Regions from separate parts of the Homo sapiens genome. Here region 2 is linked to region 1. Evidence: fine-mapped expression QTL. A gene starts in region 1. The other region holds a variant in brackets. All regions are shown on one strand. Distances are between the middles of the regions.

Region 1 (2,913 bases):
AGGGCTCACTTTCTTTGAGTATTCAGGAGGACAAACAAACAAACAACAACAACCAAACCCAAAAACAGTACGAGAGCACAAACAAGACTGAAGTACACATATGTGCCCTGAACACAAAAAACATCTTGAGCACCCTGCTTTTAAGCCTCCTGGCCATTCTGTCACTTCTGTTGGAAAGTATTTCCCTCCTTGTCCATTTCTGTGAATTCCTTCTGTTATGGTTAAACTGTTCCCCCAGCACTCCAGAATGTGATTGTATTTGGAGATCAGGCTTGTAAGAAGGTAATTAAGTTAAAATGAGGCCATTAAGGTGGGCCCTAATACAACCTGACTGACGTTCTCATAAAGAGGAAATCTGGATGCAAAGAGAGACGCCAGAGATGTGAAAACACAGAGGAAAGACCATGCGAGGACACAGCAAGAAAGCAGCCACGTGCAAGCCAAGGAGAAATGTCTCAGAAGAAACCAAACCTGAAGACACCTTGATCTTGGACTTCTAACCTCCAGAACTGTGAGAAAATAATAAATTTCTGTTGTTTAAGCCACCCAGTATTTTGTTTGCAGTCCTAGCAAACTAATACACCTTCTATTCCAGGCCCAACACTGCTCACTTTCAGAGTGAAACCTTATCACCCATATACACACACCTTGGGAGTGAAGGTTTCTCACAATACTCTGTGCATCCTCCACTCAACTTTCATTCATTCATTTAAGCAACAAACACCTAGTGACCACCACTGTGTGCCAGACCCTGTTTTAAGGGCTGAGAAGAGCTAACGTTTATTGAGTACTTACTAAGTGGCAGCCACTAGTCTAAGCGATTTACATGCACCAACTCATGAAATACGACAAGGTTCCAGGGACGCAGGTGCCGCTATGACATTCGCTTTACAGATGCGGGGCTGAGGCACAAAGAGGCCACACCGTAATGAAACTGAGCTAGGCTGTGGGCTCTGTCGTCTTAAGCGCTACTCTCAACTACAGCGTGGAAGGAAACAGAAGCCGAGAGATGGGCAGCGCGTAGCGGAGGCGGGCCGGGCTGGCTTCCAGCGGGCAAAGCCTGGAGATGAGAGGGCGCGGGTGGGGTTTCCAGGCCGAGGAAGCTGCACCAGGGAGAAGGCCCGGCTCCCAGGCCCGGAACCTGGCCGTCTGGGTCTCAGTCCGCGTCCCCTGTGATGCCCGGCACAGAGCAAATGCTCGCTGACTCTCGCAGGAGCCGCCAACCCCCCGGGTATCCTCGAGTGCCCAGAGACGGGAAGGAGCGGTGGGTCCATGCCCTTCTGGGCCACCTTCGGGCGCCCGGCCTCCCTTCCCTTCCGGGCCATTCCCACCAGCGCCAGCCCCGCACGCCTTCGCAAGGCCGGCCACCTTACCCTCGGAGGCCGCTCTCTGCCCCGCCGCCTACTCTTCACCTGCAGCAGCTGCCTTCAAGGCCACTCGCAGCGATCCGCTGGCCGCGGAATCATCACGACAACGCCCCCTTGGCTTGCCGGAACCGCCTTCCTGCTTCCGTTGGCGTCACTTCCACTGGGGGGGGCGTGGCCGCGGTGCGCAGGCGCGCTGGGTGGTTCAGAAGCGAATTCTGCACCGCGAAGCCTGAGAGGCAGGTAGCTGCGGCGCTGGGCTGGCGGCGGCGAGTCCACGTGCTCCCCGCGGCCGGTTGAAACCGTTGGCGGGCGCTGGCTGAGAGGTGAGGGGTGGTGGCCCAGAGGTCCGACCTGGGAGGCTGGGGCTCAGAGAGTGAGTAGGGGAGGGACGGGATTTCCACCGTCAGCCCCTCTGGGTTACGCATGGAGGAAGGAGTTCCATTCAGATCTCACTCCTGCTCTGGGGAAGTGGCAGGAGTCCTGGACTTAGGGTGACCAACTCGTTTTAGTTTTAAAACTTAAGGTCCGGCGTCCTGGGAACTCCCTCGGGCCTGGCCAAACCAGGACGATTGGTCACCGCCCGACTGGGCTTCAGGCTTGCTGCATGTTGGAGACAGGGCTCTTCTCTGAGCCTTGGGAGATCAGTCCCTAAAGAGGAGGCCTTAGGATGTAGCGGTCCAGAGCACATACTTAGGATCAGAATAACTACTGCGTGTGAATCTGGGTTGCCACTACCTGGATGTGGGATGACCTGGTGTAAGTTTTTTAACCTCTTTGCGCCTCACTTTCCTCATCTGTCATAACATATAGAATCTAACTCGGAGAACTGTGATGAGGATTACATGAGTAGAAATGTGTTAACCTCCTATGAGAGGGCTTGGGTGCTCCATGAATGTTAGGATTCTCTGAAGCACCTACCTCTGAGGAGAGAGGGAGGAGGATGAGGTGGGGTCTGTATTTGCAACCCTGATTTCTAGCAGAGAGGGCCCACTTGGGACTTACTCACACTGTGCCCGAGGCTCCCAGGGTCTAGCATAGTGCCTGACACATGGTAGTTACTCGAGTGAAGGGATGGTGTTTAAAACAGTGCTGGTGATGCCGTGGGTGGGGTAGGAGGCAGAGAGAAATGGCTTCTGTGCCTCAGTTTGCTCATCTGTTTAGTGGAGATAGGTGCACCTACTTCCCAGGGCTTTTGCAAGGAACAAGGGAGAGATTCTCTCCTTGTGAATGTCACCCATTGTAACCCTTGTCAGCCTCATACACAAAGGTTTAGGCAGGATGGTGGACAGAGTATGTTTGTCTGTCCTTCTCTTGCACCATACCCATGGTTTCTCAGAATGCTACCCGTGGAAGGGGCTTGAGTCTTGTCAAGTTGGCCTGACTTCTTGTTTCACAGATGAGATAACTTGAAGTTTATAGAGGCAGTGGCATGCTCAGGGTCACAGTGTTCAGTGGGGGATATCCTGGGGTTGCCAGCTAGGCCCCTCAGGTGGGCTGTTTGAGTGGTAGTGGTGGTAATGATGTGTAGGTCAGTGTCTGCATGTGC
Region 2 (2,913 bases), 33 kb after region 1:
TGCCAGTCTTGAAAGGCTGACAGTTTCTCTCCTTTGTCTATTCTTTTCTTTCTTTCTTTCTTTCTTTCTTTCTTTTTTTTTTGAGAAAGAGTTTTGCTCTTGTTGCCGAGGCTGGAGTGCAATGGCGCGGTCTCGGCTAGCCACAACCCCTGCCTCCCGGGTTCAAGCAGTTCTTCTGCCTCAGGCTCCTGAGTAGCTGGGATTACCGGCATGCACCACCATGCCCGGCTAATTTTGTATTTTTAGTAGAGATGGGGTTCTCCATGTTGTTCAGGCTGGTCTCGAACTCCTGACCTCAGGTGATCCACCTGCCTTGGCCTCCCAAAGTGCTGGGATTACAGGCGTGAGCCACTGCTCCTGGCAACACTTTGATTTTTCTAAGGTTGGCAGAGGGATTTCCTCATACGCTGTGTTCAAACATGTGTTTGCACATTGACGTTTGTGATTTTCTTTTTTTTAATTATTTTTATACGTTCTGGGGTACATGTGCAGGATGTGTACGTTTGTTGCATAGGTAAACATGTGCCATGTGGTTTGCTGCACAGATCATCCCATCACCTAAGTATGAAGCCCAGCATGCATTAGCTCCTTTCCCTAATGTTCTCCCCAACCCCACCGCTGCCCTCCAGTAGGCCCCAGTGTGTGTTGTTCCCCTCTCTGTGTCCGTGTGTTCTCATTGTTCGGCTTCCACTTGTAAGTGAGAACATGTGGTGTTTGGTTTTCTGTTTCTGCATTAGTTTGCTGAGGATAATGGCTTTCAGCTTCATCCATGTCCCTGCAGAGGATATTCTCTTGTTCCTTTTGATGGCTGCATAGTATTCCATGGTGTATATGTACCACATTTTCTTTTTCCAGTCTATCATTGATGGGCATTTGGGTTGGTTCCAAGTCTTTGCTATTTTGAATAATGCTGCAATGAACATATGTGTGCATGTATCTTTATAATACAATGATTTATATTCCTGAGTATATACCCAGTAATGGGATTGCTGGGTCAAATGGTATGATTTTCCTTTTTACATTAAAAAAAATTTCTTTCGTTCCTTTCTCTTTTGTGAGAAATCACACCCGGATGTCATTTTCACTACTTCTTGATGAGGAGGTGTGGAGTCTCTCAAGGGGATGACATGCAGATTCTTACTGGCATAAAAGTGACCCTCAGTTGGCGAATACCTTATTGAATTTCTGTACTATTATTGGGCATGTCCTAAGCCCTCAAGCAAGGGATGGCAAATAGATTCTATCTGACACTACAACTAACTCTAGTCAACTGGCAGTGATTTTCCGGTGCTCTTCAGGATTTTGAGGCTTCCACCTGGCTGTCAAAGGGAAATAAATGCTGCATTTGATCAGCAACATCTGCCACGGGTCTGGGTGGAAAGGGGCACCCAGGTTGCCACATCTTCCCTCCTGGCTTCTCATCTATGGAGATGGCCAGCACCATGGAGCCAGCATTCAGCAAGAATGGCCCCAGGGAAGGGAAAAGGAAATGGCTGCGCTGCCATCAAGAGTGGGCCGAGGTAAATATCC[G/A]GTGCAGCATGACGCAGTGGGATTGGAGTGCAGGTGCACAATCCCGTGCAGCATATAATCAGTTATGTAACCATGTTATGGGTGGGCTCATCCCCTGGCTCTGAGCCGCTATTGTCTGTGAAGCGCACAAATGTATCACGAACACTGTGAGAAGGCATGCATAATGGAGTTGGCTGCCTTGCAGGTGGGGGTGGGTGGGTGGAGCCAGGAAATGGTGAGCACACTGGGGAGTGCAGCTGCAGACTGTGGAGCTGGCACTGAGTGGGGCTGCTGAGCAGGCAGCCAAGACAAAGGCTGACACAGAGAATAAAGCCATATCCCACCTGTATAAGATCCCTCGAGTGTTCTTTCAGCTACCCGCCACCGGTCCACCTACTCCCCTCGGACCCCAGCTTGGGTTGGAAGCTGACACTGACTTTCTTTCTTTTCTGTGAGGTGGAGTCTAGCTCTGTTGCCCAGGCTGGAGTGCAGTGGTACGATCTCGGCTCACTGCAACCTCCGCTTCCCAGGTTCAAGCGATTCTCCTGCCTCAGCCTCCAGAGTAGCTGGGACTACAGGTGTGCACCAGCACACCTGGCTAATTTTTGTATTTTTAGTAGAGATGGGGTTTCACCATGTTGGCCAGGCTGGTCTCAAACTCCTGACCTCAGGTGATCTGCCCACCTCGGCCTCCCAAAGTGCCATGATAACAGGTGTGAGCCACCACACCCGGCTTCTGACACTGACAAATAGCTTATGTCCTGAGGTGCTTTGAGTCATGAGACGCAGTTTAGCCTGGCAGCCGAAAGCTTGGGTTAGTATCCTAGCTCCCCCACTTTCCTAGCTTTGAGCCTACGGAGCAAAGACCTGAGGGATGGCTGACTTTTGAACTCCGACAAAGTAGGTATTTTCTCAGTAATTGTAATTAAACTACCAAACGGAGAGTTTAATCATTCATAGCAAAGGAATACTTGAAAGAAGCTCCTTTGAATCTCATAACAAAAAAGGCTGGTGCCTCCATTTTCTCATGTATGAAATAGGAATTATAACAGTAACTGCCTCATCCAGCTGCTGTGAGGATGGCGTAGTTAACACGTGAGGGGCATGGTAAATGATGGCCAGTTTGCACCACAGTCATCCTTTCTTCCACTGCTTCCTGCCCTCTTTCTCCTGGCATGGCCACCAGCCTCACCCCTTCAAGGCCGCGTTGCAATGACCTGCTGCTGCTCCCCTGGGAGTGACCATGAGGCCTTCGTGGGCAGCCTTTCCCCACTGCCTGGATTCCACTTTAATATGAATTGTTCCCTTTCATGGGTACTTCCTATATGCCAGGCATAGTAATAAGCCCTTTACATGTATCATTAAGCTTTTCAAAATCTCTAGGAGGGAGGCGTTATTGCTCCC

Which allele goes with the higher level. Positions count from the first base shown, and alleles are read on the strand shown. Sizes are in standard deviations (SD) of each study's normalised expression.
For the expression in subcutaneous fat of the gene that starts at base 1,572 in region 1, allele G in region 2 goes with a higher level than allele A (small effect, 0.24 SD a copy in GTEx).

What was found.
Region 2: its variant is fine-mapped to the expression of LYAR in subcutaneous fat (GTEx, PIP 0.98).

The regions. Positions count from the first base shown.
Region 1 is chr4:4,288,813-4,291,725 of GRCh38, reverse strand. LYAR (Ly1 antibody reactive) reads left to right here and starts at 1,572. Exons shown (of 10, transcript NM_017816.3): 1 at 1,572-1,690. It overlaps ZBTB49 (zinc finger and BTB domain containing 49), which reads right to left and starts at 1,475. Exons shown (of 8, transcript NM_145291.4): 1 at 1,374-1,475. RefSeq lists an enhancer at 2,547-2,913.
Region 2 is chr4:4,255,778-4,258,690 of GRCh38, reverse strand. No RefSeq gene overlaps it. Among named protein-coding and RNA genes, the nearest start is that of TMEM128, 9.0 kb to the right of the region's middle. RefSeq lists an enhancer at 1,151-1,651. The variant G/A (reference allele first, on the strand shown) is at 1,531.